Regions from separate parts of the Homo sapiens genome. Here regions 1, 3, 4, 5, 6 and 7 are each reported to be linked to region 2. Evidence: microRNA targets listed by miRTarBase, many of them from high-throughput screens and not tested one by one. Region 2 holds a microRNA gene; each other region holds the end of a gene's coding sequence.

The links. Region 2 holds the annotated microRNA hsa-miR-2467-3p (AGCAGAGGCAGAGAGGCUCAGG, at 2,244-2,265, opposite strand). A microRNA usually pairs through its seed, bases 2 to 8, with sites in the 3' UTR of a target mRNA and lowers its output. Matches are read on the target gene's strand: a 7mer-m8 pairs with bases 2 to 8, a 7mer-A1 pairs with bases 2 to 7 and ends in A, and an 8mer does both.
Region 1: miRTarBase lists NLE1 as a target of hsa-miR-2467-3p. Seed matches in the 3' UTR shown: 7mer-m8 at 3,280-3,286, 7mer-m8 at 2,586-2,592 and 7mer-m8 at 2,329-2,335.
Region 3: miRTarBase lists ZNF527 as a target of hsa-miR-2467-3p. Seed matches in the 3' UTR shown: 7mer-m8 at 784-790.
Region 4: the mRNA of APH1A is a reported target of hsa-miR-2467-3p. The part of its 3' UTR that is shown has no 7-base or 8-base seed match.
Region 5: miRTarBase lists HIC2 as a target of hsa-miR-2467-3p. Seed matches in the 3' UTR shown: 7mer-m8 at 3,384-3,390.
Region 6: the mRNA of PCDHB16 is a reported target of hsa-miR-2467-3p. Seed matches in the 3' UTR shown: 7mer-m8 at 2,983-2,989.
Region 7: the mRNA of EYA3 is a reported target of hsa-miR-2467-3p. Seed matches in the 3' UTR shown: 8mer at 2,463-2,470.

Annotation. Positions count from the first base shown.
Region 1 is chr17:35,129,112-35,133,169 of GRCh38, forward strand. It overlaps NLE1 (notchless homolog 1), which reads right to left. Exons shown (of 13, transcript NM_018096.5): 13 at 1-3,338. The coding sequence ends at 3,326. It overlaps FNDC8 (fibronectin type III domain containing 8), which reads left to right. Exons shown (of 4, transcript NM_017559.4): 3 at 311-547; 4 at 1,171-1,621. The coding sequence ends at 1,323. Among named protein-coding and RNA genes, the nearest start is that of FNDC8, 9.5 kb to the left of the region's middle.
Region 2 is chr2:239,349,489-239,353,553 of GRCh38, forward strand. It overlaps MIR2467 (microRNA 2467), which reads right to left and starts at 2,316; the gene lies at 2,236-2,316. HDAC4 (histone deacetylase 4) reads right to left here. Exons shown (of 27, transcript NM_001378414.1): 2 at 3,190-3,430. The coding sequence starts at 3,211. RefSeq lists a silencer at 2,979-3,172.
Region 3 is chr19:37,389,327-37,393,391 of GRCh38, forward strand. ZNF527 (zinc finger protein 527) reads left to right here. Exons shown (of 5, transcript NM_032453.2): 5 at 1-3,740. The coding sequence ends at 553. Among named protein-coding and RNA genes, the nearest start is that of ZNF527, 20 kb to the left of the region's middle.
Region 4 is chr1:150,262,803-150,266,860 of GRCh38, reverse strand. It overlaps APH1A (aph-1A gamma-secretase subunit), which reads left to right. Exons shown (of 7, transcript NM_001077628.3): 6 at 205-328; 7 at 667-1,457. The coding sequence ends at 731. It overlaps CA14 (carbonic anhydrase 14), which reads right to left. Exons shown (of 11, transcript NM_012113.3): 6 at 3,991-4,057; 7 at 3,662-3,819; 8 at 3,442-3,562; 9 at 3,182-3,202; 10 at 2,983-3,067; 11 at 1,783-2,268. The coding sequence ends at 2,202. Among named protein-coding and RNA genes, the nearest start is that of SNORD13C, 3.1 kb to the right of the region's middle.
Region 5 is chr22:21,446,095-21,450,154 of GRCh38, reverse strand. HIC2 (HIC ZBTB transcriptional repressor 2) reads right to left here. Exons shown (of 3, transcript NM_015094.3): 3 at 1-4,060. The coding sequence ends at 3,412. Among named protein-coding and RNA genes, the nearest start is that of TMEM191C, 19 kb to the left of the region's middle. RefSeq lists an enhancer at 236-789.
Region 6 is chr5:141,184,416-141,188,480 of GRCh38, reverse strand. PCDHB16 (protocadherin beta 16) reads right to left here. Exons shown (of 1, transcript NM_020957.4): 1 at 2,255-4,065. The coding sequence ends at 3,591. PCDHB9 (protocadherin beta 9) reads right to left here and starts at 1,320. Exons shown (of 1, transcript NM_019119.5): 1 at 1-1,320. The coding sequence starts at 1,162. It also overlaps PCDHB@.
Region 7 is chr1:27,970,882-27,974,946 of GRCh38, forward strand. It overlaps EYA3 (EYA transcriptional coactivator and phosphatase 3), which reads right to left. Exons shown (of 18, transcript NM_001990.4): 18 at 1-3,665. The coding sequence ends at 3,585. Among named protein-coding and RNA genes, the nearest start is that of XKR8, 13 kb to the left of the region's middle.

The sequences.
Region 1 (4,058 bases), not on the chromosome of region 2:
CTATCCAGTTCCTAACAGGCCATGGACTGCTATCAGTTGGTGGCCCAAGGGTTGAGGACCCCTGGCGTATAAGAAATATGGAATGAGGGTGTACCCTAAAGTGGGTGGGGCTGCCCAGGAGAGTAGTACATGCTTCGGGGCAGGGGTTCCACACTCAGTGCTGCAGTACCTTGCACCTTCCATCTGACCTGCCTGGGCCCCAGCAGGAGCAGGGGATGGGCATGGGACGTCCTGACCCCAGTTGGGAGGGTGAAGGGACAGGAAGGACAGGACATATCTGAGGAAGCCTCGGGGCTCTCTCTTCCCCTAGATTTCCTGGACCTACGCCTTGGGCAAGCAGCCGGTCAGTTTCTACCAGCTCCTGTTACAGGAGGTGGCCAAGACACAGGAGAATGAGTTGCCCGAGGCAAAGAATCGTCCATGGATCTTCAACAAGATTTTGGGCACTACTGTCAAGCTGATGGAGCTAAAGCCTAACACGTGTTACTGCCTCAGTGTCCGTGCAGCCAACACAGCTGGGGTGGGGAAGTGGTGCAAGCCCTACAAAGTGAGCCCTGGGAAAAGAGGGGCCTTGGGGGTGGAGAGAAGTCCAAAGCCAGGGAACCAGGGCTTTGGAGGTTGGGAACACCCCTATGCCCACATGACTCATCTGGCTAGCTTTCCTTCTGCCTGGGTCAAGAAGCATCAATTCCAGAATGCATGCTTCTGGGAGGTTTAAGGATTAAGCCACTCTGGGGCCCACTAGGAATGCAAACGAATGTATTTTTCAACATCACTATAATGTTCCCCTTCCAAAGCCATTGGTTTTTAGACTCTGCAATTCAGTGCCCATGATTGTGAGTAGGCTGGGAAGTCAAGGGCATTGAAAGAAATAGGGAAGACAAGAGGCTAAAGGGGGACGAAGAAGGGAACAGCCTGGGTATGGGGTAGGGGTATGGGGGTATAGAGGCCTGAGTACAGACAGCCCTTTGGTTGGAAATATCCCATAATGAGGAGGTACAGGCTTGAGTCATGCATCTTTGCACCTGTTTCCTGCGTCAATGGCTAGGTTGGATAAGGCTGTTTAAGGTCTGAGTCAGCAGACAGAAAAAAAAGGGGTGATAGAGACAGAGAGAGAGCCAGGTTCAGATCTGGGAAGGAACTCTGAAGGGTTTTCTTGTTTCACTTCAGTTTGCAACCCTGGCCACTGACTTCAGCAGCTTTCCTGAGAACTACCCCATCCAGATCACCGTGCGGCGCAAGGAACCCCGGCAAAAGATCGTGTCCATCGGGCCGGAGGAGATGCGGAGGCTGGAGGATCTGGAATACCTATTTCCCTGTTAAGGGGGAGGGCCCCAGGACACCCCTCACCTACTTTCAGCTTCAACCCCAGGCCCTCAGAAACCAGAGCCATGAGACCTACCATACCACCAGCACCCTGCGGGCCCGGGGTCTGGCAGAGTGGTATGGGCACCCCACCCCTGGGCTGGGGCCAAGGCTACATAGGGGCCCCATTCACCTGGAGGCATCTCAGGCCAGGCCATGCCAGGCTCAGCCACTGCCCACAGCTGCTAGACTCCCTCCTCCTCCAAATCTGGGCTGGGTCTAGGTCCCTCATTAAAGAACTGCAGGTCATCCAGCACCCTAAAGTCTGCTTTATGCTGCAGACAGCCTCAGATGGGCTGGCTGGCACCCACCTCCTAGCTTCCACCAGGACAGAGTCTACATGGGTGGGGAGATAGAAAACAGGCAGCTAGGCAATAGGATGCTGCCATCACCCCTTCCCCAGTGGGGCGGGGTAGGGGAACAGGGAGACTGGTGCTCTAAGACTAAAAGGCTCTTACACCAGAAAAATACAGAAATAGCTGTCATGGACAGACGTGGTGGCCCATGAACTGTCAAACTAGCTTGAGCTCTGGACGGAGGGATGTGGTACAAAGTGCACAATAAGCTTTGGGGCAGGGCCTGGTTTAATCCCAGCTTTCTCTTACTAGATGTGAGGGCATGGGCTAATCATTTCTTATGTTGTTTCCTCATCAAAAGTTTTGGAGCTTGAGAACCTTCCAGGCCTGGTGCAGTCTGAGAGCACAGCAGACAAACAGCTGGCACCAAGGAGCTCAGTGGCTGATAGTTTTGTTCGCTTCTTATGTAGCCTCACTGCAGATATGTGCAAGGTGGAGGCCAAGCACCACAGCTAGGTGACGCGCAAAACCCAAAAGCACAGACAAGGGTGGAGGAGGGTAAGAAGGAGCAAGATGCTAGTTCTGAGCAGTTTATACAAGGATGGTTTGGAAATCCAATCTGAGTAGTTCAGACCATGACCCTGCTTAGCATGGGATGCAGGAGAAAGCAGAGGCAGGGTACATTCAGGGCAAGATCTCGGCCTGGGGTCTGAGTCCTGATGGGAATTCCTTTCACTGCTTGAAAGTTCTCGTGGCAAAGAACTTCCTCTGTATCAACAATACCCACTTCTGCTCAGAGCTCATACTGCTGCCTCCCCATCTGAGGGAATCCTCTGGAAGAGCCATCACCTTCCCCGCTCTATCCCATGGGCCCAGGGCAGTGCTTGGTGCCTGGCAGGGCCTCAAGCAGTGTGCTATGCGAAGGCAGAGGCATCCCCTGGAGCAGGGCTGACCAGCAGAACTCTCTTGATGATGAAAACCTTTCTGTGTGCTGTCCAATACTGGAGGCCTTACCCAGTGCGATGGAGGAACTGCACTTCTATTTCATGCCAGCAGTCACATGTGGCCGGTGCCTACTGCAGTGGACAACAATACAGCCCTAGATTCTCCTTGGCCACTATCACAACTGGCCTCTCTCTTACCAACACGGGGGAAGAGAGGGAAGGCAAGTGCCTGGTCAGTGTGGTTTTGGCGTAGTCCAGTGCAAGGGCGGGGGCTGGACAATCTCATTTAGCACAGTCCTTGATTGAGTCATGGGGATTCTAGGACAAGGAATTAGAACCCAACACACAAAACTTAAGTTACTTATTTGGTCATAGAACCTGGGATCTGACCCTGTACAGAGCTGACACTAGGGGCCCACTCATAGAGCCTGGCTGCCCACCACCCCTGTCTGTACCAGCAAGGTACAGAGTAGCAGACACGGGCCAAGTTCAGTGACAACTTCCTGTGACCTTCGATTTCTGGCTCTGGGGTGTGCCACAGGCGGGGATCTGTGGGAAAACCCCATTCCGGTCTATCGAGGACAGCAGGCCACACGCATTCTCAGGTCCCCACTGGTGGGGAGGGTGTGTGCACTGCCATCTCAGCCTTTGTTCTCTGGCAGGGAAGGCAGCTGGCAGAGGCCGAGTCGAGGTGGGGGTCAGAGAGAACTTCGGGCCGTCTCATCTCCTCCATCTGTGGAGAAGGGAAGGGTGTCAGGATGGGGATTCCACCTTAGGAAAGGGAGGCCGTCATATAATCCCAGTGTCAACAGACGGACGGCCTGTGGTCCACCCTCAGAGTCACCAAGAGCCAGGTGACCGTCCCTGCTCTGCCCACCCAAACTCAGGCTGCCCACTCACTGCCTGCTGCCACCAGGACCTCCACCCAGGGCCTGGCCCTCGGGATGCCCACCAGCAAACAGTCACAATCCCTTATAAGCACACAACACTTTGTCTTCCAGAGTGTTGACCCTCCTATTTTTGATCCTGTCTGTGAAGGTTTGATAATTCCCAAGAGACTGATTAACCAAGTTCTCTGTGATTACTCCATGGCAGAACCAGGATTTGAACTCAGGTCTTGCGACTCTGAAGTCTAGTGACAGAAAGACCTGGATGCGCCCTCTACAAGGTGTCCTGTGGCCCCTGTTGTTCCGGTGGCCCTCCCACTTGCCCACTGACAGAAAGACCTGGACGCGCCCTCTACGAGGTGTCCTGTGGCCTCTGTTGTTCCGGTGGCCCTCCCACTTGTGGCCCTCCCACTTGCCCACTGAGAATCTGGCTCCACACGCCTCCTCAAGACAGTCTGAGCACCTGGACGGCCCTGCGGAATTCTATGCTGTAAGGGAAAGTGTGCACAGAAGGACCTTAGGGGTAGGAGGGCTGTGTATGCCAACCACCACTTCCCCCACACTCA
Region 2 (4,065 bases):
GCATCAGCTGACAAGAAACACAGAGGAACTTCCCGAAACTAGAGATCTCTGGGGATGGAGCTGCTTGGGAAGGCACACAAGCGAGTGGGCCTCGCCCAGGAGGGAGGGCACGGTTCTGGGCAAGCCCCATCCCCCGCCTGAGACGTGGGCAGAGGCCGCTGGGCCACCAGCCAGTGTGTGCAGGTGGTGGTATGCACGTGTTGGGCACAAGGGGTCCTGCCTCCCAAGGGACCTCCGGGCGGAAGGGCAGACACGGCAGGGAAAGATGACAGCGGACAGGGCAGAGGAGGCAGCCAGCAGACTTCAGGCCCCAGGCAAACCACCTCAGCTGTACCCCCTGCACAGATGGAGAGCAGAGAATGGGCTGGGCCAAGGGGCAGCCCTGCCCTCACCAGTGCGGCCTGTCTTCAGCCTCCAACCCACTGAGAGAGAGAATGGAGAGGTCGTGGGTGGCAATAAGGCGCACACAACCCAACTCACATGGGCAGGACAGGCCCGGGCAGGCCGGTGATCAAACTGAACCGCAGCGGCTGAAATTCCCACAGAAAAGGCCAAACAAACCCAGCACCCCGCGGTTTCCAGAGCTGAGCCTCAAAGAACCCGGCCTGAAAAGGTTAGAGACAAGCGGATGGAGAAATATTTGTTAGCCAAAAGAAACCAAGGGTAGAAATACCTCATGAAACACTATAAGCTCTCGGTCAAAGAAACATTAAACAAAGAGAAATATATTATATTTTGATAAGAGACCTGATCTACCAAAAGAACAGTCATTAATTTTTAAGCTTTAAAAAAAAACACTGAACTATATAAAGCAAAAAATGGTTATTAATGTAAAAAGAATATTATAAGACTATAATCACAGTAGAAAAATACACTTTTCCAAGAAATCGAGCAGACAGAAAAAAATAAGTAAAGCTATACTGATTTAAATAACTCAACTGAGTTAATATATAATTAAAACAACATATAAAGAAAGGATACATATCCTCCTATATATAAATAAAATATATATAAATGAGAGAACTTTTTTTTTTGAGACGGAGTCTTGCTCTGTCGCCAGGCTGAAGTACAGTGGCGCAATCTCAGCTCACTGCAACCTCTGCCTCCCAGGTTCAAGCGATTATCCTGCCTGAGCCTCCTGGGTAGCTGGGACTACAGGCACACGCCACCACGCCCAGCTAATTTTTGTATTTTTAGTAGAGATGGGGTTTCACTATGTTGGTCAGAATGGTCTCAATCTCTTGACCTTGTGATCTGCCCACCCTGACCTTCCGAAGTGCTGGGATTACAGCTGTGGGCCTCTGCGCCCGGCCGAGAACTTTAAATACAATATTGATACATACATACAGACGTCTTTAGACTGAAACAAAATCCTAAGAGCATACTTTCTCTTCAAATGCCTGCAGAGCATGTACAAATTATGATTATGTGTACACCAAGTCATACAAAAATATGCACCCCCATTAAAATAATCAAGTGTACTCAAACAATAATTTTCCCATAGCACACTGACAAAAATGAGAGAGACTGAACCTACCCAGTGCTGGTACAGCACAAATGAAAAATATGCATCCTCTTACACTGGAATTAGGAAGATCAGTTGGAACGAGGCTTCTGGAGCAATTTGACAGTCAACCTAATGATGTTTTAAGTGCACGGGCTCACTGACCCAGCTTCCACTTCCTGGAATTTGTCTAGTAGTGATACTTAGAAGTTTACAAAATATATGTATAATAATTGTTTGATGCCAATTTGGAATTGGTATAAACACTGCTACAACCACATAAATATCCATTCGCAAGGTATCAAAAGAGCAAGTTATATTTGCACACATACTGATACCAAAAGATGCTTATAACACATTAAAATGGACAGAATGTAAAACACAGGGCCCTGCCTATAGAATTATACTCTATGAAAATGCTCACACACATCACACTATGTTTAGACACAGAAAAAAGATACACTCTCACCCAACAGCAGCCCAGTGTAGGAGGGAGAGAGCCAGCTCCATTCAATGTCTATTTAGACACTTTGAGCCATAGCGCTTAATTTTGTCTTGGAATGATCATAAACCATTTCTTTACATCAGTCAATACATAAACAATTTAACTCAATAAAACTTTCATATCTAAAAAAACCTGGAATCTTGCCCTCTGGAATTTTCAGACAAAGACGATTCCACCCAGGGAAAGATGTGTGTAAGCGTTCCGGCAATCTCAAAGAGAGTGACCCAGACAGACCCTGAGCCTCTCTGCCTCTGCTCTAAGGAGCAGGACCCAGAGCCAAGGCTAACAGAGCCTCAGGTGCCTGTCCAAGCGTCTGTCCAGTGGCCACCGTCTTCTCTCTCATGTGGACGCAAGACAGAAGTCGATGGCTAAGTGCCCTTGAAGGCCACGGTGCGCTGGAAGTGGCAGGAAGCTGGGCAGCACAGGACTGGCTCTGCAGGAGCCCCACACTCAGGCAGGTCGGCGGCAGGCCTCGAGGTTTCATTATGGTGCACGCTCTCGGTGACTTTCCAAGGACAGAAAGTGTGAAGTCGTAAATGGATGGGCCCATGACATGCTTCTGAAGCTCAGAGCAGGACAAGCTTGCTTCCCAATCATGTGGGTCCCCCACCTACCAGCTCTGTGACCTCAGGCAAATTACTTCTTCCCTCCAGGCCTGAGATGATCTGGGGCTGTACTAAATGCTTGTAAAATGCTTAGTGCAGCCCCTCACAGAGGCCCTCAAACACCAGGAGCAACTGTGGCCACGACCTCAGTGGGAACATGAGCTTCTTCCCAGACAGCCCAGACGCCCAGTTGGAGGAGCACTCCCACCCCTCACACAACCCCTCATGAAACAACAAAGACACTGGGCAAGAAACCAGCTCTCCACATCACAACCTGACCTTTCAACATCACCCTTGTCAAAAAGCATCGAGGAAACCTGTGTGCCTCTCAAGTCAGCCTGCAAACCGGGGTCGCAGACTTGACTCCACATCCTCCCAGGTTTTATCATTCTTCTTTCACCAAGAGGAAGAATAAACCATCCATTTTGCACTTTGTGCTGTCAAAAACCAACAGTGACCACTATCAAGAAAAACAAAAGTCTCAAATCCAGAAAGCAAGCTGCAGTCACAAGAACTTCTACTTTGGGCAAAGAAAGCCCCGCTGTGTGCCCAGAGAAGAAATGACCCGGCCTTACCTGGATGGCTTTGGGAGCTCATTGCTAGCAATGTCCACTCCTTTAAGTGATTCGAAATGGCTCAAAATTTCCACGGAAACGATAGCTCCAACGAGCTCCAAACTCCCACCAACACATACAAGTACCGGGACGGTGAGGGCTGGGTCACAGACGTTCAAGCGCCGAGCCTCGCCGGCAAGGTCTCATGAGCCAGGTAACCCACAAGTTGAACAGAGGCGTCCGCTGGCTTCTGCAGATGAACCTGCAAGGTCAGAAGGAGAAAAGAGACTGGAGTTACAACATGGAAGTTCCGATCTGGAAAACAACATCCAACTAGGGAAATGATGACTTCCTCTTTTTTTTTGGAGACAGAATCTTGCTCTATCGCCCAGGCTGGAGTGTGGTGGCACGATCTGGGCTCACTGCAACCTCCACCACCCCTGCAACCCTGGGTTCGAGCAATTCTCCTGCCTCAGCCTCCCGAGTAGCTGGGAACACAGGTGCATGCCACCAGGCACAGCTAATTTTTGTATTTTTAGTAGAAACGGGGTTTTGCCATGTTGGCCCAGGCTGGTCTCAAACTCCTGACCTCAAGTGATCCACCCACCTCAGCCTCCCAAAGTGCTGGGATTACAGGCTTGAGCCACCACGCCCCACCAACTTCCTTCTTTATCCTTGTTCTGACCAAGGACTGATAGAACAGTTCGACGGAATCATTTCTACAAATACGAGCAGTGGGATTTTTGTTAGTAAATCACAGACATGTAAAAATGTCTCCAGAGAGCAGGGTTTCTCAGCCTCAGTACCACTGGGATTTTGGTTTGCGTATTTAGGTGTTGGGGTGTAGGGCTGCCATACACATTATAAGATATTTAGCAGGATCCTGGGCCTCCACAC
Region 3 (4,065 bases), not on the chromosome of region 2:
CATAGCCCTTACTCTACATCAAAGAATTCACACAGGAGAGAAACCCTTCAAATGTAGTGAATGTGGGAAGACCTTTGGCTATCGCTCACACCTGAATCAACATCAGAGAATTCATACCGGAGAAAAGCCCTATGAATGCATCAAATGTGGGAAGTTTTTTAGGACTGACTCACAACTTAATCGACATCATAGAATTCACACTGGAGAGAGACCATTTGAATGCAGTAAATGTGGGAAAGCCTTCAGTGATGCTTTAGTTCTAATTCACCATAAGAGAAGTCATGCAGGAGAGAAACCCTATGAATGTAACAAATGTGGAAAGGCCTTCAGTTGTGGCTCATATCTTAATCAACATCAAAGAATTCATACTGGAGAGAAACCCTATGAATGTAGTGAATGTGGGAAGGCTTTTCATCAGATCTTGTCCCTAAGACTACACCAGAGAATTCACGCTGGAGAAAAACCTTATAAATGTAACGAATGTGGGAATAATTTTAGCTGTGTCTCAGCCCTTAGACGACATCAGAGAATTCATAATAGAGAAACGCTCTGATTATAACAAGTATAGGAAAGAAAACATGTGGTTACCACTCAATCCTTATTAAATATTAGTGAGTTCTTTTTGGTTAGTAATTCTTTGAATGTAGTTCATATTTCAGTTCATGAGTATCCGTTATTTGAAGTAGCTCAGTAGTAGACATCTGTTACTTTTTTTTTTTTCAGACAGAGTCTCGCTCTGTTGCCCAGGCTGGAGTGCAGTGGTGTAATCTTGGCTCACTGCAGCCTCTGCCTCCTGGGTTCAAGCAATCCTCCTGCCTCAGCCTCCTGAGTAGCTGGGATTACAGGTGCCTGCCACCATACCTGGCTAATTTTTGTATTTTTAGTAGAGACGGGGTTTCACCACATTGGTCAGGCTGATCTCGAACTCCTGACTTTAGGTGATCCACACGCCTCAGACTCCCAAAGTGCTGGGATTATGGGCGTGAGCCACCGCGCCTGGCCACATCTGTTACTTTTTGATCTGTTCTATACCTGGCTTAGCCCACCCTCAATGCATATGATTCAGATGAAACTGTTAATCAGGGACAGCAGTGGACTGGTCACAGGCTGGCCAATTATTTCCCCCAACCTAGTGATAAGGGATTGGCAAATGGCCCTGTCTGGATCAATGAAGTCCTTTGCGGGTATTCCTATGGGCAGTAAGAGAGGTTTTATTCTGGAACTGCAAGTTTCAAGGATTTAATAAGATTAAAAACTCACCAGTAGCCTTTTTGCCACTCATGAGGAAAGCTTTCCCAAAGAGAAATCTAACAGAGGAAAATGGAGATGAGAGACAGAAATATGATGATACAGCTTGATCTCCTGGATCCAGTCATTCCTGACAGCTACACCATCACCATCCTTTTTCATTTTTTGTGATCCAATAAATTTCCTTTTTTTGCTTAATTTGGATTATATTTTTGCCTCATGGAATTAGAGTGCTGATTCACACATTCTATGTTTGCTATACATAAAAGAAAGCCTTAATTTTTTACGTGGCATAATTATTTATCCTGAGGAGCAACCTTCTGATATAACAAGTTTATGAAAGTTGAATACACAGCCTTCATAAAACTGAGATAATTGTTACATTTTATTTGTCGATAAAACTATTTTAGTGTTTCTTAGTTTTTTTCACATTATGGCTGAATATTTTAAAATTCACCAAGTAAAATTCTTTAACAGGCTTCCCCTTAAGGAGTTAAAATCATTTGTCACAGTGACTCACCATTTGCCTGTAAAGAGAGAATGGAAAGCTAAGAGAATAATACTTTCATTTGTTTAATGAATGGCTCTTCATCTTCAAGGAATTACTTGATTTTCTTCTTTCAGTATGGGTCTAAACATATTCTGTGGCAGAATATAATAACAATTAAATTGTAAATGAGGTCTTTTGTGGGTGGGCTCTAAATTTGGTTTAAGACCCAGTGCGGTGGCTCACGCCTGTAATCCGAGCACTTTGGGAGGCCGAGGTGGGCAGATCACCTGAGGTCAGGAGTTCGAGACCAGCCTGACCAACATGGAGAAACCCCGTCTCTACTAAAAATACAAAATTAGCCGGGTGTGGTGGTGCGTGCTTGTAATCCCAGCTACTCAGGAGGGTGAGGCAGGAGAATCACTTGAACCTGGGAAGTGGAGGTTACAGTGAGCGAAGATCGCGCCATTGTACTCCAGCCTGGGCAACAAGAGCGAAACTCCTTCTCAAAAAAAAAAAAAAAAAAAAAATAAATAAATAAATAAATAAATAAATTTGGTTTAAGAAGTGTATGGATAACTTCTTTGCAGCTAGAGATATCAAACAAAGATATTGCTGGCAGAAAGAATGAGTCATTTTTAACAAATGGTAAAAGTAAAGCAGTTAATGCCTAAAATTTTTAGAGACTAAATCATTTCCATTATTGGGAGTAATGAGGAAGATGAAGGTGTAGGGCAATACGTTTCTTTTTTATCTGAGTGGATATAGGGAAATAAACTGGTGATATGGCAGCTGGGCCATCTTGAATAGTGAGAACCAGTAAGAATATTGGGTATTGCCTGAAGAGCATCTGTAAAAACATATCAGAACAAATGAAAGAGGAAAGAATGAAGGATTTATATGTGTGCATAGAGTGAATATATGTGTGCATAGAGTGAAATATTCAACTTATACTTATTTCTAATAAAATCTGAAAATTATTTTTCATAAATATTCAAATTCCCTTTAAACAGCTTAAAATACAGATTTAGTGACTCAGTACTTCAAACCTTGAATAGAAACAAATATGATTATAAAATATTTCCAAACTTATGTTACATCTAATCTGAAACATATTAATATTATAAGCTTAATTCATGTCATCATTTCTTTATTTTTTATTATATTTCCTGGAGGTATAAGGATATTTATTTTTATAATTTCCAAGCACTGAGTAATAATTTATTTCAGAAAGTTTCAGAAGGTTACAGTAAACTTTACCAAACTTGAAGAAGAATGACTCAGATCAGTAAGAAGAGTCTGAGTTACTCACTAATTGATTTTTATTTTATTTATTTATTTTTTTTGAGACAGGGTCTCACTCTGTTATCCAGGCTGGAATGCGGTGACACAATCATGGCTCACTGCAGCCTCAACTTCCCAGGCTCAAGCGACCCTCCCACCTCAGCCTCCTGAGTAGCTGGGACTACAGGTGTGCTCTACCACACCTGGCTAAGTTTCGCGTTTTTCTGTAGAGATGGGGTTTCGCGAGTTGCCCAGGCTGGTCTCCAACTCTTGGCCTGAAGTGATTTGCCCATCTCGGCTTCCCAAAGTGCTGAGATTATAGGGATGAGTCACTGTGCACAGCTACTAATTGATTTTTGATCTATGTATGGCACCTGATTTCATCCTCGAGAGTGACGTAAACCTAAGCTACTGGTTCATTCTCTGTTTATATAGTTAAACTTCACTTGTAATGTTGATAAAATCTTTTGTACCCATGTGTTTAGCTTCAGTGTATTTTACAATCTGATGTTTCTCCTCACAATGAAGTACTAAATTTTGTTTCTTTTCAACTGTACAACCCATTGTCTTGTGATATATTGACCTGATCTCTTAGGATTAGTGAAAATTTATGCTTTATTAATATTTGATTGTTATTAGGACCATCTAGAGATTTCTGTTTATGTGTGTGTATGTGCATCTGAAGATGTGTATTTTATTTAAATTTTTTGTATTAAGTGCCTACTGTGTGCCAGGCTTTGTTCTAATCTAAGCAATGGAGATACAGCAGTGAACCAAACAGACAAGAATTCCTGCCTTCAGAGAGCTAATTTCTAATAAGGAAGACAATGAAAAAGATATGTAAGTAAAATATATAATATGTAAGAAAGTAAATTCCAAGGTGAAAAAGATGAAAAAAGGGATGGGGAGCCAGGGAAGGCCCTTCTGAAGTTAACTTTTGAGTGAAGACCTAAAAGAGAAATATCTATCTATCTGTCTATCTACCTATCTCTATCTATCTATCTATCTATCTATCTATCTATCTATCTATCTATCTATCTATCTAT
Region 4 (4,058 bases), not on the chromosome of region 2:
GAGGTGAGCAGGAGCGGCAGAAACCTTTGAGTTTCTGAGGAGCTGAAAATCAAAAGTCCCCTTAACCACAAGATGTTGGTGCTCTGAAGGGAAAGACTGGAGAATTTGAGAGAGATATCTGGGAGTCAGAAAGGTACAGAGAGAATATGGGGATTAGGTCGAGGGAGAATCTAATCTCTTTCCTACTCTTACCCTCCTTCCTAGACATTCCTGAACCCCTGGTATGAGGCCAGCCTGCTGCCCATCTATGCAGTCACTGTTTCCATGGGGCTCTGGGCCTTCATCACAGCTGGAGGGTCCCTCCGAAGTATTCAGCGCAGCCTCTTGTGTAAGGACTGACTACCTGGACTGATCGCCTGACAGATCCCACCTGCCTGTCCACTGCCCATGACTGAGCCCAGCCCCAGCCCGGGTCCATTGCCCACATTCTCTGTCTCCTTCTCGTCGGTCTACCCCACTACCTCCAGGGTTTTGCTTTGTCCTTTTGTGACCGTTAGTCTCTAAGCTTTACCAGGAGCAGCCTGGGTTCAGCCAGTCAGTGACTGGTGGGTTTGAATCTGCACTTATCCCCACCACCTGGGGACCCCCTTGTTGTGTCCAGGACTCCCCCTGTGTCAGTGCTCTGCTCTCACCCTGCCCAAGACTCACCTCCCTTCCCCTCTGCAGGCCGACGGCAGGAGGACAGTCGGGTGATGGTGTATTCTGCCCTGCGCATCCCACCCGAGGACTGAGGGAACCTAGGGGGGACCCCTGGGCCTGGGGTGCCCTCCTGATGTCCTCGCCCTGTATTTCTCCATCTCCAGTTCTGGACAGTGCAGGTTGCCAAGAAAAGGGACCTAGTTTAGCCATTGCCCTGGAGATGAAATTAATGGAGGCTCAAGGATAGATGAGCTCTGAGTTTCTCAGTACTCCCTCAAGACTGGACATCTTGGTCTTTTTCTCAGGCCTGAGGGGGAACCATTTTTGGTGTGATAAATACCCTAAACTGCCTTTTTTTCTTTTTTGAGGTGGGGGGAGGGAGGAGGTATATTGGAACTCTTCTAACCTCCTTGGGCTATATTTTCTCTCCTCGAGTTGCTCCTCATGGCTGGGCTCATTTCGGTCCCTTTCTCCTTGGTCCCAGACCTTGGGGGAAAGGAAGGAAGTGCATGTTTGGGAACTGGCATTACTGGAACTAATGGTTTTAACCTCCTTAACCACCAGCATCCCTCCTCTCCCCAAGGTGAAGTGGAGGGTGCTGTGGTGAGCTGGCCACTCCAGAGCTGCAGTGCCACTGGAGGAGTCAGACTACCATGACATCGTAGGGAAGGAGGGGAGATTTTTTTGTAGTTTTTAATTGGGGTGTGGGAGGGGCGGGGAGGTTTTCTATAAACTGTATCATTTTCTGCTGAGGGTGGAGTGTCCCATCCTTTTAATCAAGGTGATTGTGATTTTGACTAATAAAAAAGAATTTGTAATTGTGGGGGAACTTGGCTTTTAAGGGAGGGGATAGCATGTTAATTGAGATTTCTGTCCTCAGATCTCTCATCCAGCCACTTTCCTAACCTGGCAACCACTGATTTCCAAGCATAGCCTTGGTGCAAGGGCAGAAATCTGGGCTAGTGGTTTAACATGTCTGAAACTTTGGGTTAAGTGTCTTCCCAGAAGCTTATCTTTCCTTCCAGGGGTGGGATAAAAGGAGTTAATCACCCATGCTTCTTTTCCCCATCCTTTGCCCATCTTTACCACCTGAGGGATTCAGGAACTTGCCCACCCTCAAGAGCCTCAAAGGATAGGCCAGAATTAAAGTCAGAAACTTTAATTTCCAAATATATTGATCAAAAATATACAACTTCAACAGCAACTCTTTATCCTAAGGAGAGATCCCGCAGTATATCTAGGGAAAGGGCCATAAAAGTGAGGGGGTAGAGGACTTTGGGGTATATCCCAAACTTCCCCTGCAACTAAACAGAGTTTGTTCTCTGCATTAACAACACAGCGATTTCCTCATTTCCTCCTACATGTTTGGAGAGGCTGAAGGCTCTGCAGTTCTTCCTGGAATGACAGCCTGGGTCCATTCCTCTCTAGGAGATGTCCAGGGGAAGGAGGACATCTGCTTACTACTCCTACAGTGTTTCTGGCCAGATCCTACACCCCATTTTAGAGGCTTCCTGATAGGCATGAAGGGAAGTCATCCACATCCATGGTATCTGAGAAGGAATTTATGCCTCAGTCGTGGCTTGTGCTGAGGTGAAGACCACACTCTTTCGGTTTTCCAGCCTCTTCTTCCTGGAAAGGGGAATGGCTCATGAGAATGACTGCTATCTAAGTGAAGCAGATTAGAGGTGAAATAGGAGAATGCTTTTTAACAGAAAAGAGGGCTGGGCAAGGTGTTTCACACCTATAATCCCAGCACTTTGGGAGGCTGAGGCGGGCGGATCACTTGAGGTCAGGAGTTGGAGACCAGCCTGGGCAATGTAGTGAAAACCCGTCTCTGCTAAAAATACAAAAATTATCTGGGCATGGTGGCACATGCCTGTAGTCCCACCTACTCAGGAGGCTGAGGTGGGAGGACCACTTGAGCCCGGGAGGTGGAGGTTGCAGTGAGCTGTGATAAAGCCATGCACTCCAGCCTCGACAACAGTGAGAACCTGTCTCAAAAAGCGGGTGGCTCATGCCTATAATCCCAGTACTTTGGGAGGCTGAGGCAGGCGAATTGCCTGAGGTCAGGAGTTTGAGACCAGCCTGGCCAATATGGTGAAACCTTGTCTCTACTAAAAGTACAAAAATTAGCTGGGTGTGATGGTGCGTGCCTGTAGTCCCAGCTACTCGGGAGGCTGAGGCAGGAGAATTGCTTGAACCCAGAAGGCAGAGGTTGCAGTGAGCTGAGATTGCACACCACTGCACTCCAGACTGAGTAACAGAGCAAGACTCCGTCTCCCACCTACCAAAAAAAAAAAAAAAAAGAAGAAGGGACTGGAGGAATGGAAAGTAGGGCCTCACCGAATCTTTCTAGCAATGAAATAAACAGCCAGGAGAAGGCAGAGACAGCCAACCAAGATTCCTACACCTAGACTCAGCATTTCACCTGGGGGAGATAAAGGTAAAAGGTGTCAGCCTAGGACTAACATAGATTTTGAGCCTTTCCCCCACTCGGTGAGGACACCTCCCCTCCCCGCATTATCTTATAAGGCTGGCTTACCTGTGGTATACGAGGATCCTGCTGTAAGAGAAGAAAATGGGTCAGTGGGACTTCAGATCCCCATCCCAGCTGGGAGCAGCACTCTCTGCTGCTGTGCCTGGGAGAATCCCCCGGGGGCACCCTGGGGTGGGGGTTGGTTCCCAGTCCAAGCAAGTCCCAGAAACCCCCTCCCCTTTTAGCCTTTTCTTCCCATTGGCTCCCTAGTTCCTGCCATTGTGTCCCCCTCAGTTTCCCATCTCTTCTGAGCCGTGCAGAATCACCTTGGATGAAAGAAGCAAAGACCATGCGCTGATTGAGAGGCTGAAGGGCTCGGTAGTTCTGTACCAGAAGCTTAGAGGGCTCCTCTTCTGTGGAGAACAATGTCCCCTGAAGCTTTTCCAGCTGAGGAGCAGAAGCGTGGGAGAGGTGTTACTTTGGGGAGTGGGAAGGGGTCTGAAGTTACAACTGTGTCTCACCTCACCTCGTTTCTCCACCACTTACCTGTTCCATTGAAATCTGGGACCTTCTATAAAAAACTGTCCAGAGCACACTCTGGTAGCAAGGGGGAGTTGTGAGCGAGCCATTGTAGCGGAAGTACTGCCCCAGCTGTTTGGGGAGCAGCTCTCTTAGGTTGAAGGGAGGCACTGAGGTCTTCTGATCTGGGGAGAACAGACTGGGACTCATCTTCCTTTCAGTGTGCCCTAGCTTACCTAGATAGGGCTCCCAGAAGCAAAATTCCTTGGCTCTATGTAATTGCTTCATCCCAAGGCTTTTAAGGATAGTTTTTGAAAGTCTAATCTTACTTCCTGCTATAGATTTTTAAGGCTCACCTTTATGCCTGACTTCATGCAAGTGACTCAGAATGTGTTCATAAGCTATATTCTTAGTCTCACCCACC
Region 5 (4,060 bases), not on the chromosome of region 2:
CTCACTCGCCCCAAGTCTGAGAAATAAATACATTCATCACTGCACAAACATATTGATACAAAAACAACACTGTTAAGAGTGTTTGCACCGTCTATGTTGGTAAGGACCAGACCCAGTCAGCCCCTTCCGCTGCCTGGGGTGGGGTTAGGGGGCCCCAGGAGTGGGGACCCACCAGAGTCGACAGAGCTGCGCAAAGGTCCCGGCTTTTTGGCTTGAGTGGGACCCTCGCATCAACCCATCCCCAAGGGTCACGGGCAGAGCAGCAGGGGGACCCAAGCCCAGACTCGGGTCCTGTGGCCAGAACTGACGGCCATCCCCGCGTAGGCTAGCTGGTCAGGACCAGCATGGTCCGGCCAGAGGGCCTTGGGGGCTGGTCAGCACGGGCCCAAGCTCTTTGGTGCCAGCTGGGCTTGGAGGGGCCCTGGGAATGGGGACGAGGGCTCAGGTGACTCCAGGGAGGCTTCCAATCCCTCCCCCAGCCCCAGGGCTACCCTTCTCTGCCCGTGAGCCACTCCAGGGCCAACTCAGAAGGGTTTCCAGCAGCAGGGGAGGGTTCCCTGGACTGGCCTTACAGCTGCTGAGGTCTGAAACTGTAAAAGCTTATGTAAACAATGAGATAAATATATTAGCATCTTTTTTCTGAGCCCATGGAGGTTCCATACTCATTCAAAATGTGCTTTGGTTTAAAAAATAGGCTTTGTGAATTTGGGTATGAGCTTATTTTTTTTTCTTTTTTCTTTGTTTATCCTCTCTTTCCTACATGATATCTGCTATTTTCTGATTCCTGTTTCTCTGAAACATTCAGGAATTAAGTGACGAACGCAGAGAACTGTAAGCCGCCTTGGCCTCCAATAACCCAGTTTCCTTGTGAGGCTCTTAACATCTCCACACACACACACTCGCACACACCTGATGTGGAAATCAAAGGAAAAAGAAAACAAAGCCAAATGTTGTGTTAATCCCGCCCCGCCCCACAAACCCTTAAAGTCTTAAATAGGAAACTAGTGTTCTGCTTTCTCATTAAAACACAGAAAAGGCTCGATACAATACTAAGGTGGATACAATACTATGTCGCACAAACGTCGTTGAGTGAGGGGCCTCTGCTCCCAGTCCCTGAAGTTCTGCAAAGGAATCACCTACTTTCACGAGTCACCTCACAGATGCGGCTGCCCACAGCCCGGGAGGCCATGCACACGGCCAGGCGCGTGAACATTTCCCGTGCGGTACAGACTTTGTGTCATGTGGCTTAAGTGCTGATGGGGCGGGGTGGCGTCAGGACGGCAGGAGCCCCCTCACTGAGTATGGGTGAAGTCCATGGGTCTCCTCCCCCCAGGTCCCTAGCCTGACTTGCTGGAACCTGAGACCCAGGGTCCAGTCCTCTGTCTCCCACCAGGAGGGAAGAGGGGCCATCTTAGGCTGGGATCACCACAGGGAGGGCTCAGCCAGGAGCCTCATCTACCCAAGCTCCCTCACCCCCAAAAGACGCCGCTCACCACTTGGGTCCCTGAACTCAGGCTCTGTTTTTAGCTGGAGGGTCTCTAGAGGGGTGGGGGTAGGGGATGACTCTGTATTTTTTTGGTCTAAACTTAAAATAGAATGAAAAGAGAGAGAAAAAAAAATGGTGAAGCAAGATGACAATAAAGGCTGCCAGCCCAGCCCCACAGCTTCAGCTGGCTGAAGACAGTGGGACTGAGATCAGCAACCTTGGTCTGACCTTGAGAGCCCACTTCAGGGCCCACAGAAGTATCTGAGGCTGGCTAATTACCAAGATGAGGGGCGAGAGGTGGGCCCCGAGACAGTGGCCGGGGGCCAGGACTGCTCAGGGAAGTGCCATCCCTGTTCCCCGGGGGGCCCTGTGGTCAGCTCTCTCAAGCTTAAAACTCTTGCAGGAATGGAGGATAGGAGTGGCAGGATGAGGGCTCACTTCCGCCTCACCCTGGCCGGGAGCTGCAAAGACCTGCCACCCTCCTCATGGTTCCCCTGTCAGCACCCAGTGCCTGGCTCCAGGCTGGGGCCTCACACCCCTCACCTATACCACAGAGGTTTGTGTGCCCGGGGTGCCAGGGTCCCCTCGAGGTGGATGTGGCCAAAGGCTCAAAGGGAAAACCCACAGGTGAGCTGCAGGCACTGGGCCACTTGGCGCCCTGCTGGCTCCTGCACACGACTTCCTAGGTGCTAAGCGAAGGAAAACAAGAGTGTCAAGGGCTTCCACTGCCAGTCACCAACATATCGTTGTCATGAATTCAAGAGGTAGCAAAAGGTCAGAAGTCTCCACCTTGTTCAGCGAGGAAGGAGGGAAAGCGAAACATCTGCCCATGCATACGGCACACACCACACATAGACACACACATACGCACATACACACACACACACGCACGCACACACAAATGAAAACAAGAGTACCGACGGCCCCGGCATTGAGTCTAGCCTCCCCCCACCCCCCGGAACCCCAGACCTTCCAGTTCAAACAGTCACATAAACGTTACACTGGTTTTTCTCTTAATAAAAAACAAGTACCTCTAAACAAAGAATATTCCTTGGAAACTACAGGAAAAGCACTCTCCCCTGAGGCAGCCGAGGCAGGGCTCAGGGACCAGGGAAGCCTTTGGGCAAGAAGGGCTTCTGGGGCCTGGAGAGGTGGCGCGCCGACACCCCTGCAGCGCCAGAGCCGGGGGACGCGCAGGAGTGCCAGCGGCCCCTGTTACATTCAGTCTTCAGACCCAGGCTCAGCCCCGGAGGGGGCGGAAAGAAAATAAGCTATTGTCTGTTTTGGTTTAAAAAACAAAAATCAAAAAGAAAAACAGAGGAACAGATCAGTAGGAATAACAGCAACACAGGCCCAGAGGGCTCTTTAGATGTAGAGAGGTAGGCGGTGGGGTCACCCTGACTGTCCCAGCGCCAGTGAACAGTGCCACCCTGGCTCAAGGAGGGAGGGATCTGCACCCCCAGCACCTGTTCCCTGCAGAACCAGGGCTGCACGCGCCCGCACAGACACAAGCACACGTGCACACACACAGACACGGCCAGCGGGGTGAGGCCTGCTCCCGACACCACCCTGGCCGTGGCCAGCGTCCCACTGCCCTTTCTCCAAGCCGCCTGCAACAAAGGGACCAGGTCCCAGCGAGACCCACGTGACCCAGCCCACAGGCCCTGCGGTGGCCCCCGCGGGGAGCTGGGGGCCTGGGTGGGATGGGGAGGTAGACGGGCTGGGACCCCTGGCTTCCCTCCTCTCGGCTCTGCTTGGTACGGACTGTCCATTAAAGCTCTGGGTGTGGGCAGTGGGGGCCAGAGGGGCCACCCGGAGCCTCCACTGGACCCAGGGTCTTGCCCCTGCTGCTGCATCACCTCGCTTCTCCTTCCATGGGTTCCCGGGGAGCAAGGTGGCAGAGGGCGCCCGCGGGTCTTTGGCTTCTAGGAGGGGGAGGTGTGCATGCGCAGGTGGCTGATGAGGTTGCGCTGCTGGGTGAACTTGCCCCCGCACAGCTGGCACTCGTAAGGTTTCTCGCCCGAGTGCACACGCATGTGCTCCGTGAGGCGGTACTGACGGGTGAAGCGCATGCCACACTCATCGCAGGCGAAGGGCTTCAGGCCCAGGTGGCTCCGCATGTGACGCGTCATGGTGCCGCGCTGCGTGAACATTTTGCCACAGATGTTGCAGGGGAAGGGCCGTGTCAGCCAGTGCGTCTTCTCGTGCTGCCGCAGCGTGGCTGGGTCCTTGTAGGTCTTCTCGCAGACCGAACACTTGAAGGGCCGGGGCTCAGCCGTGTAGGCCGCACTGGGTGCTGACAGGTCCTCGGCCTCCTCCTCGGCACCCCCACTGCCTGTCTCGTAGGCCCCCTCTTCCTTGATGAACAGCTCTTCCTCCGTGTGAGTCTCCACGTGCGCATTGAGCTGCTCAGAGCTGGGGAAGCCCTTGGCGCAGGGAATGCACACATACAAGTTGTCCCCGTAGGACACCGTCTCGTAGCCCTCCTGCCGGTACATGTAGTGGGCGCTGGCATGGCCGCTGCCCCCCTCGCTCCCGCTCTGCGCACTGTCTTCACTTGCATCCTTGCCGTTC
Region 6 (4,065 bases), not on the chromosome of region 2:
TATCTTGAACATAGCAAATTGTCTTTCCATTTTCTCCGGAGTCTCTGTCTTTAATCTTAAAAACAGCCAATACTATCCCAGGAGAGTTTTCAGCAACAGAGTTGGAAAGTGATGATATGATCAGTTCAGGAGGATTGTCATTGGAATCTAATACTTTTATCAAAACTGTACATCTTGCAGAAAGGCCTCCGCCGTCCATTGCCTGTATATTTATTTTGTAAGAATTTACTAACTCATAATCAAGCAATTCTCTGAGAAAGATTTCCCCAGAAAAAGGATTGATTTGAAACGTTGTTAAAATATCTTCAGAAGCATCAAAAAATGAATAGGATACTTCTGCATTGACTCCTGAGTCTGCATCTCCTGCAGACACTTTAACAATAAGGGACCCTACTGGACTGTTTTCTGGAGCCTGGGTCTCATACAGAGCCTGGGCAAACTGTGGGACATTGTCATTGACATCCAAGACCACAATGCGTATAGTGGAGGTCCCAGACCTGGATGGAGACCCACCATCCAGCGCTGTGAGGGTTAAGCTGAGCTCTTCCTGCTCCTCCCGATCCAGTGCTTTGTCCAACACTAGCTCTGGATATATCATGCCTTCATCACTGCCACTAATTTTAATATGGAAAAAAGAGTTGGAGCTGATCGTGTAGTTTTGGATACTGTTATGACCTTCATCTGGATCCTGTGCTCTTTCTAGTCTAAATGCTGTCCCTTCAGCTGTATTTTCTGATATTTTTAAGACCATCTCTTTGTGCCGAAACACTGGCGAGTGATCATTTATATCCCTGACTCTCAGCTCAGCCCGGTAAATCTGAAAGGGATCATCCATTAAAATTTGGAAATACAGCATACAGGGCTCTTTAGGGCCACACAGCTTCTCTCGGTCCAGTTTCTCATTTGTGAGCAAATTCCCGGTATGTGAATCCAGGAGCAGGTATTGTTTGTTATCATCGGAAACCACCCTGGTTCCCCTTGCAGCCAGCTCCCCCTCTGCTAGTCCCAGATCCTTTGCCAGATTGACCACAAAGGATCCTTTCTCTGTTTCCTCAGTCACCGAATAACGTCCAAACCCAGAACCTGCCAAGGACACTCCCCAGAAAAGAAAAAGAAACAGGACTTGCCTTTGTCTTGGAAAGCTGAACCCCCTGGTCTTCATAGCTGCTTCTTTCCTCAATGTCAGTCTCAATCACACTGCCCCAGCACAAATAGCAATCGCAAACCCAGACTTATGTGTACCAGAGATCTAGGGTTTTTAATTTTTCCTTTCCCAATCAGGGACTCGACAGCTCTTCTTCTCAGCCCATCTGTCTCAGTGTTTCCTTTTTGTCAAGGACTTCCGTAGCATTCTGGTCAATTTTGTTCCTCCGTCTCTTCAGTCTGCAGCGCCACCTTGTGGCTTCCAACACAGTCAAATGGCTGTGCCCAATTTTTGTGTTTATTTAAAAATTCTTCATTGCTTCATGAGAAAAGATAAAAATTGAACAGTTGAAAAAATGTTTCTAGCAGTAACCCTGTTCAACTCTGTGTTAGATTTAGCTGTGTTAGGCCTTTCGCCTCTGACACAACTCTTACGCAAACAAAGGGAAAATTGTGGGTGCCTTCTGGAACCACCAAAATAATCAATTTCACTGTCTCAAAAGCTTTGGGCATAGGAACACCAAAAATTAACAACAATAAAAAAAACTTGTTTCACATCTTCTTCAACAAATGTCTTCAAGATCTCAGATTGCCTAACTAGAATCACCGCTCTGTAGTCCAGAACCAAGCATTAGGCTGTCTTTCCATTGTGCTTCTCTAAAACTTACGCATACAACTATGTTTACTCTATAAATATTATTGCTTCTTGTTTCAGGCCAGTTTGCCCCTTCATCAATGTGTGAACTACTTGAGAACAACTATGTCTTAGTCATCTTTGGTTGGCAAATTAGCCACTCACTAAATGCTGGCTATATTAAGGCATGCATAAATAAACTAGTGAGTAGGACATGAAACAAAATTCAGTGCCTTTCGATCTCTGCCATTTGAAAATTGTTTTCTTTAATTTACTCATACTTTGCAATTTGTTTTTTTTTTTTCTTAGATTAGCTTTAAAGTAACTTGCAGAATTAAAGAAGGGACTGACCTTTATTTTCAAGTCCCTTTTAGTGGAAATCTAGTAGGCCCTAATTTCTCTGAACCAAATAAGCGGAGGTAAAGAACAGATCAAACTAACACCTATCCTAACACTATTGAAAGTGAAAACAAATTATTAAATCTGACTCACATAGAATTTTATTCAAAGGCCTAATATCTAGAAAGAAGCTCAACTTTACATATAATAAGCAAGAAATACAGATTAAACATAGGGATATTTTACAGAGAAAGGGCTAGATACCGCCAATGTATACTATGATGAATATAAAAGCCAAACCATGTAAATGTCTCTTTGATAAGTTTTTTTTCCAACTTAATGAGATTGAGTTGTTAGCCATTAAAAATATAACAGGGACCTCTGATTTTTTAATTCAGTAATAGAAAGAATAAATTATTAAATATTTTTACATAATACCTTTGCCTTTTGTCTACAAACACAAACACATTTACACATACTGAATGTCTTACAATGGCTTCTCTTTTTATTTTTAGATAAGGCTGGTTAAAGATTTCTCATATCACTTACAATAGGAATATTTTATTTTATTTAAGGAGATACCAATACAGGGAAAATAGAACTTTTTTTTTAAAGGTAACTTTACGAGACTCCATCTCAAAAAAATAAATAAATAAAACTTTGGATGGGCACATTGGCTTATGCCTGTAATCCCAGAATTTTGGGAGGCTGAGGAGGGAGGATGGCTTGAGCCCAGGAGTTCAAGATCAGCCTGGGCAACTTGGCAAAATCCCATCGCTGCAAAAGATTAGCCAGGCATGGTGGCATGCACCTATAGTCCAAGCTACTTGGGAGGCTGAGGTGGAAGGATCCGTTGGGCCCAGGAGGCAGAGGTTGCAGTGAGCCAAGATTGTACCACTGCACTCCAGCCTGGGTGACAAGAGTAAGACCCTGTCTCAAAAAGGAAAAAAAAAAAAAGAAAGAAAAGAAAAGAAAGAAAGAAACTTTAAGAAAAGTATTATAATGAAAATTGAGCCCAACAAAAATACCAATTTTGAAAGGAAAATAGACAAAAGAAATGTAACATAGGAAATATGCCTAATACATGCAACAGGTTATTTTAATACTTGAAGTTCTAGGAAACTGAGAAGTAACATGAAAAATGGAGCAAAAAATGAATAGGAAGTAAATAAAATATAAAGACGGAAAAATTTTAAATGACATCAACTTTGAAGATAAAGTATATTTTGTTAATTGGGATTCTATATGCAACACCTCTTCGGGGTAAATATGAGGAAAAGGGAAACTGGAATTAACAATATAATTTGAACTAACAATCAGAGAAAAATACCTTATTGGTGGTGGTGAGCATGAACAATTTAATCAACAAGACAATCATAAGAAGTTAAGGAATTTATCAAATGGGTTCCTATCAATAATTAAATCCAAAGCTATTGTGAAGGGTGGAATTTTAATCTATTTCTTTCCTAGTGCCCTAAGGAGAGAAGTTGGGGATAATCGGCTTCAGGAACTTGAACTCACTTGTTTCTGAGCCTCCTGTCAGACACACCTCGTATTGGTAGCTCTGGGACAGGGTCCCGGTGCCGCTTACGTCCACCAGACGCCCTGGAAAGGGGCCCTCAGGCATCGAGCAGCGGCCCACCGAGGCCGCCCTGCTCCTCCTGCACAGCCGCACCGCCACGAACAGGAGCACCGAAAAGAGGAAGAGCGACGACACCGAGGCCAACGCCACCACCAGGTAGACAGTGAGCGAGTTGGCCTGGGTCTGGCCGGGGGCCGCCTCTGGGAGCGGCAGGAAGGGCTGGGAGAAGCCGTCCACCAGGAGCACGTGCAGCGTGGCGGTGGCCGAGCGCGGAGGCTCGCCATTGTCCTTGACCAGCACCACCAGCCTCTGCTTGGCTGCGTCGCGCTCGCTCAGCAGCCTGGCGGTGCGCACCTCGCCATTGTGC
Region 7 (4,065 bases), not on the chromosome of region 2:
TACTCCTCTCCCCTGTGGTTCAGTGACACTGACAACCATTCAAGGTAGTAAACATCTAGAAGCTCCACATGCTGCAGCTAGAGTTTGCAAGTCAGATTCTATTTGGAATTTTAAAGCTGAGTTTGTGTAAACTGCGAACAAGCTGTGGCATCAGTCTCTTGGGACAACTCACTAGCTTTACAGAAGACAGGAACGCCGCAAATCAAACAAAAGCCCAGATGGGCATCTAAATCTGGAGCAGGTGTCCATTCTTCTGGACACTACCAGCTGCCCCAGGGGCACTGGACAGGGTGATGCTAAGGCACAGTCAGTTTTACATTCGAAAGTCAAGCCACCTCCTCAACCCAAGACACACCTCACTCCAGATCTACTACTAGAGAGAGCCCTCACCGTGACATTACAGACCCATCCTGTAGAACCCACAGTGCCTGGCCAGGCATGGTGGCTCATGCCTGTAATCCCAGCACTTTGGGAGGCCAAGGTGAGCAGATCACCTGAGGTCAGGAGTTTGAGAACAGCCTGGTCAACATGGTGAAACCCCATCTCTACTAAAAATACAAAAATTAGCCAGGCGTGGTGGTGGGCGCCTGTAATCTCAGCTAATCAGGAGGCTGAGGTAGGAGAATCGCTTGAACCTGGGAGGCGGAGGTTGCAGTGAGCCGAGATCATGCCACTGTACTCCAGCCTGGGTGACAGAGCGAGACTCCATCTCAACAACAACAACAAAAAAAAAAAAAAAAAAAAAAAGAGAACCCACCATGCCCAGCTAGGGAAGGACTCATCATTTGGCTAATTTCATGAGGACTCTAATGAAGAGGGTCTCCCCCTTGATGAATGGACCCACAGTGTCCTTTGGTCCTCAGCTTCTAACAGCTCTTAATCCTACCCACTTATTTTCCTTTCCAGATTTTTGTGTTGGGGTGGAGAAAAAGGCAGGGTAATTACAGAGAGCACTGTGTTCCCTGGACAATTCATTTTGGCAAACAGCCAAGAAGCTCCTGTTTTCTCTCTTCCATTTAAATGAGGGTGGCAACAACCAGGAATGAGCAAAGACTGCTCTGCTCAGCCTCCTTACCTCTCTTGGCCAAGTTCAAGTTCCTTTTGGAAAGAGCTAAGCTAGGAAGTCAGAGTAAGAGGAAAAAGGCCAATGATAAAAGTGAGTTCAAGTTACATTCTAAAATAAAGAGCTCCCAAAAGGGTGGAGAGGGAAGTATCTGTGTGTGTGTGCTTGCGTGCATGGTGGGGGTACCACTCCGCAGCCTCACAAACCTGAAGCGCAGCACAACAGCCGTGGCCTTTGTCCAGGACAAAAACCCAACAGCTATACTGCATAGGGGGAGGGTTTGAGGCCTCAGAGTAAAACCTAGAGCTTCCTAAGATCAACCATCAAACAAGGCAGAGCAGCATCTAGGCAACTATGCTGAATACAGACCAAGGGAAGGCCTACCTCACACTACATCTCCCTCCTCCCAACCCCACAGGAAACAAGGCCAAAGAGGCAGCTAAGTAAAGGAGCACTGACTTCAGCTACTCAGCAAAAACTTACTCCTTAAAATCACGAGTTATGAGCGCTTTTCAATGAGTTCTGAAGGAATGTGTATACCAGCCTCTCTCTCTTGCTATCTGGGTGGCCTGGCATTGGAAGGAGTCTTGCCTCTTTGTGCTGCAACATCTCTGGAAATGGGTATGCAGAATCTCTGGTGACAAGCAATTATAGCTGGGGTTGGTCAACAATGCCTCCTTCTGCGGACCAATCCTGCATCTCAATCTGAGGTGCTTGTATCATCTCTCTCTGTGTAGCCTGGGAGAGGCTGAACTTCCTCAGCTCTAGGGAATTTTATCCTGCCTGAGTAGATGCCCAAATTGCTCTTGGAGGGATGGGGCATCCAACAATCATGGCTGGGCTGGAAGGCTGTGACTAGTGCCTGGGCACCCACCAATCTGCCCAGAGGTCGAGAGATGCTCCTGCATTTGGCCCAGGATTAAGTTTTGGGCCATGAAGTAGGGAATGATGCAGTACTCTCATTTAAATCAGGAAAGTCTGGCTGGGTGCAGTGGCTCATGCCTACAATCCCAACACTTTGAGAGGCCGAGGTGGGAGGATCGCTTGAGGCCAGGTGTTCAAGACCAGCCTTGGCAACAATGTGAAAACCTGTCTGTTTCTCCCTTCCCCCCACAATCAGCAAAGTCTTTCTGGTTTCCTACTTTAGAATGGGATTTGAGAAGCAGGGTTTTCCATGGGAAAATTTAAATACAGCAATCTGCTCTTCAGTTTCAGGCAGAGATCTGGGTAAATACATACCTGGGACATCCTTCATATGGCTTAGGGCTTCCACAAAGGAAGTCAAATACATTGGCAGTTTTGGCCAAAATGTAGTTATAAGCATGTTTTTAGATTTGATTTGAATTCTTGGGTCTAATACCCGGGGACTGGCCAGAGCTGCCTGGAGGTGGACATGAGGTGCAGAGGGCAGGAAAGGGGTAAGAACCTAGCATTATGATGACCAAGAAGGAAGAAGCTGCAGGGACGAGCATCTGATGGGAAATGGGTGCTTCTCTGCAGGGGGAATAGGTAGAACCTTTCGGTCTCAAGAGCCAAGAAGCTGAAATTCATAAGACACTTTAGTTCCTTCTCTCCAGTTTGGAAGCTAAGCCTCCTGTGATACAGTCTGAATGACAGTCAAGCTGAAGGAGTTTTTAGGGTTGTGCCATTTGACTAAAGGGAAAAGGGACTGGAAAGAAGACTAAGGCTTCTAGATGGGAAATGCCAAAGTTTAAGTTACTCAGTGTCCAGTGCCCCACAGTTCACCAGCTAGGAGATAGAAGAACAGGAAAGGTATCATCCTAGAGAGCAGACCACTGGAGCAGCTATAGAGGTGCTACTGCCACAGGGAGGTATTTTAGATATTTCAATTACTATTTTCAAGACTTTAAACACCCCTTCTTGCTAGAAAAAGAAAGTGGGGGAAACCTGCGTCAAAGATCAGACCCTTACCTATAAAAATAACATACACATTCGCTGGAAATAAGTGAGATTCTAAGCTAAGGAGACTCTAAGACTGCAAGAGATGTTATCATAAAAGTCTGCTGCATTTATCTGATCACCACAAGTTATCAGTAATTCTCAATCTGGTCATGGACTAAGAGTGCAACTCTGCCCCAGGAATTTCCTTTTCTTTTTCATTTTTTGAAAACAAAAAAACAAAAACAAAACACAGAAAAATTAAAAGCACTGTAGCTGCAGTGAGTCCATTGTTCTCTCTATCCAACTGTCCCTGCTTCTGTATGGAGATGAACACGGGGCTGCAGCTCACTCTTAGCAAAAATTGCAGCTGTTGGTTCTGATTGTGTTCTCGCCAGCATTCCATGGATAAAGACAGAGAGAGAGAGAGAGAGAGAGGCAGAGAGGGAGGGAGAGAGGAAGGGAGGGAGGGAGAGAGGGAGAGAGAGAAAGAGAGAAAGAGAGAGAGATAGAGACAGAGACACAGAGAGAGACAGACAGAGAAAGTTCTCAGTTGGTTCCAGTCTCCAGCTCCCTTCAGGAGTGAAAAGGAGCTCAAGGGGAAGGCTCCTCATTCCAGTTCTTAGAGAAAATCAAGCTCTAAAGCCTGGTGAAGGGATACTAGGTCTCCATGGTTTGTGATCCTCCAGAAAGGCATGTTGTGCTGGAAGAGAGTGGGAATAGCTGGTTAATCCAACTTCTTCTGAGAGCTTATATAAATATTTGCCCATACTCTTTCCTCAACACACCTCTCCCCAAGGTACATGGTAACCCTATCTATCCCTGCCTCATAGGGCTGTTATAATGATCAAATAATCATATGCATAAGGACCTTGTACATTGCACACTTTAGAAATGTGAGAAATTTTAAATAGGTTTCAGTGGTACTTTGTGCTTTTGAGAGATTACCTGTTCTAGCTATTATTTTGAAGACAGGGTCTTGCTGTGTCACCCAGGCTGGAGTGCAGTGGTGTGATTATAGCTTACTGTGGCCTTGAACCCCTGGTCTCAGGTAATCCTCTTACTCCAGCATCCTGAGTAGCTGGAACTACAGGCATTCCAGT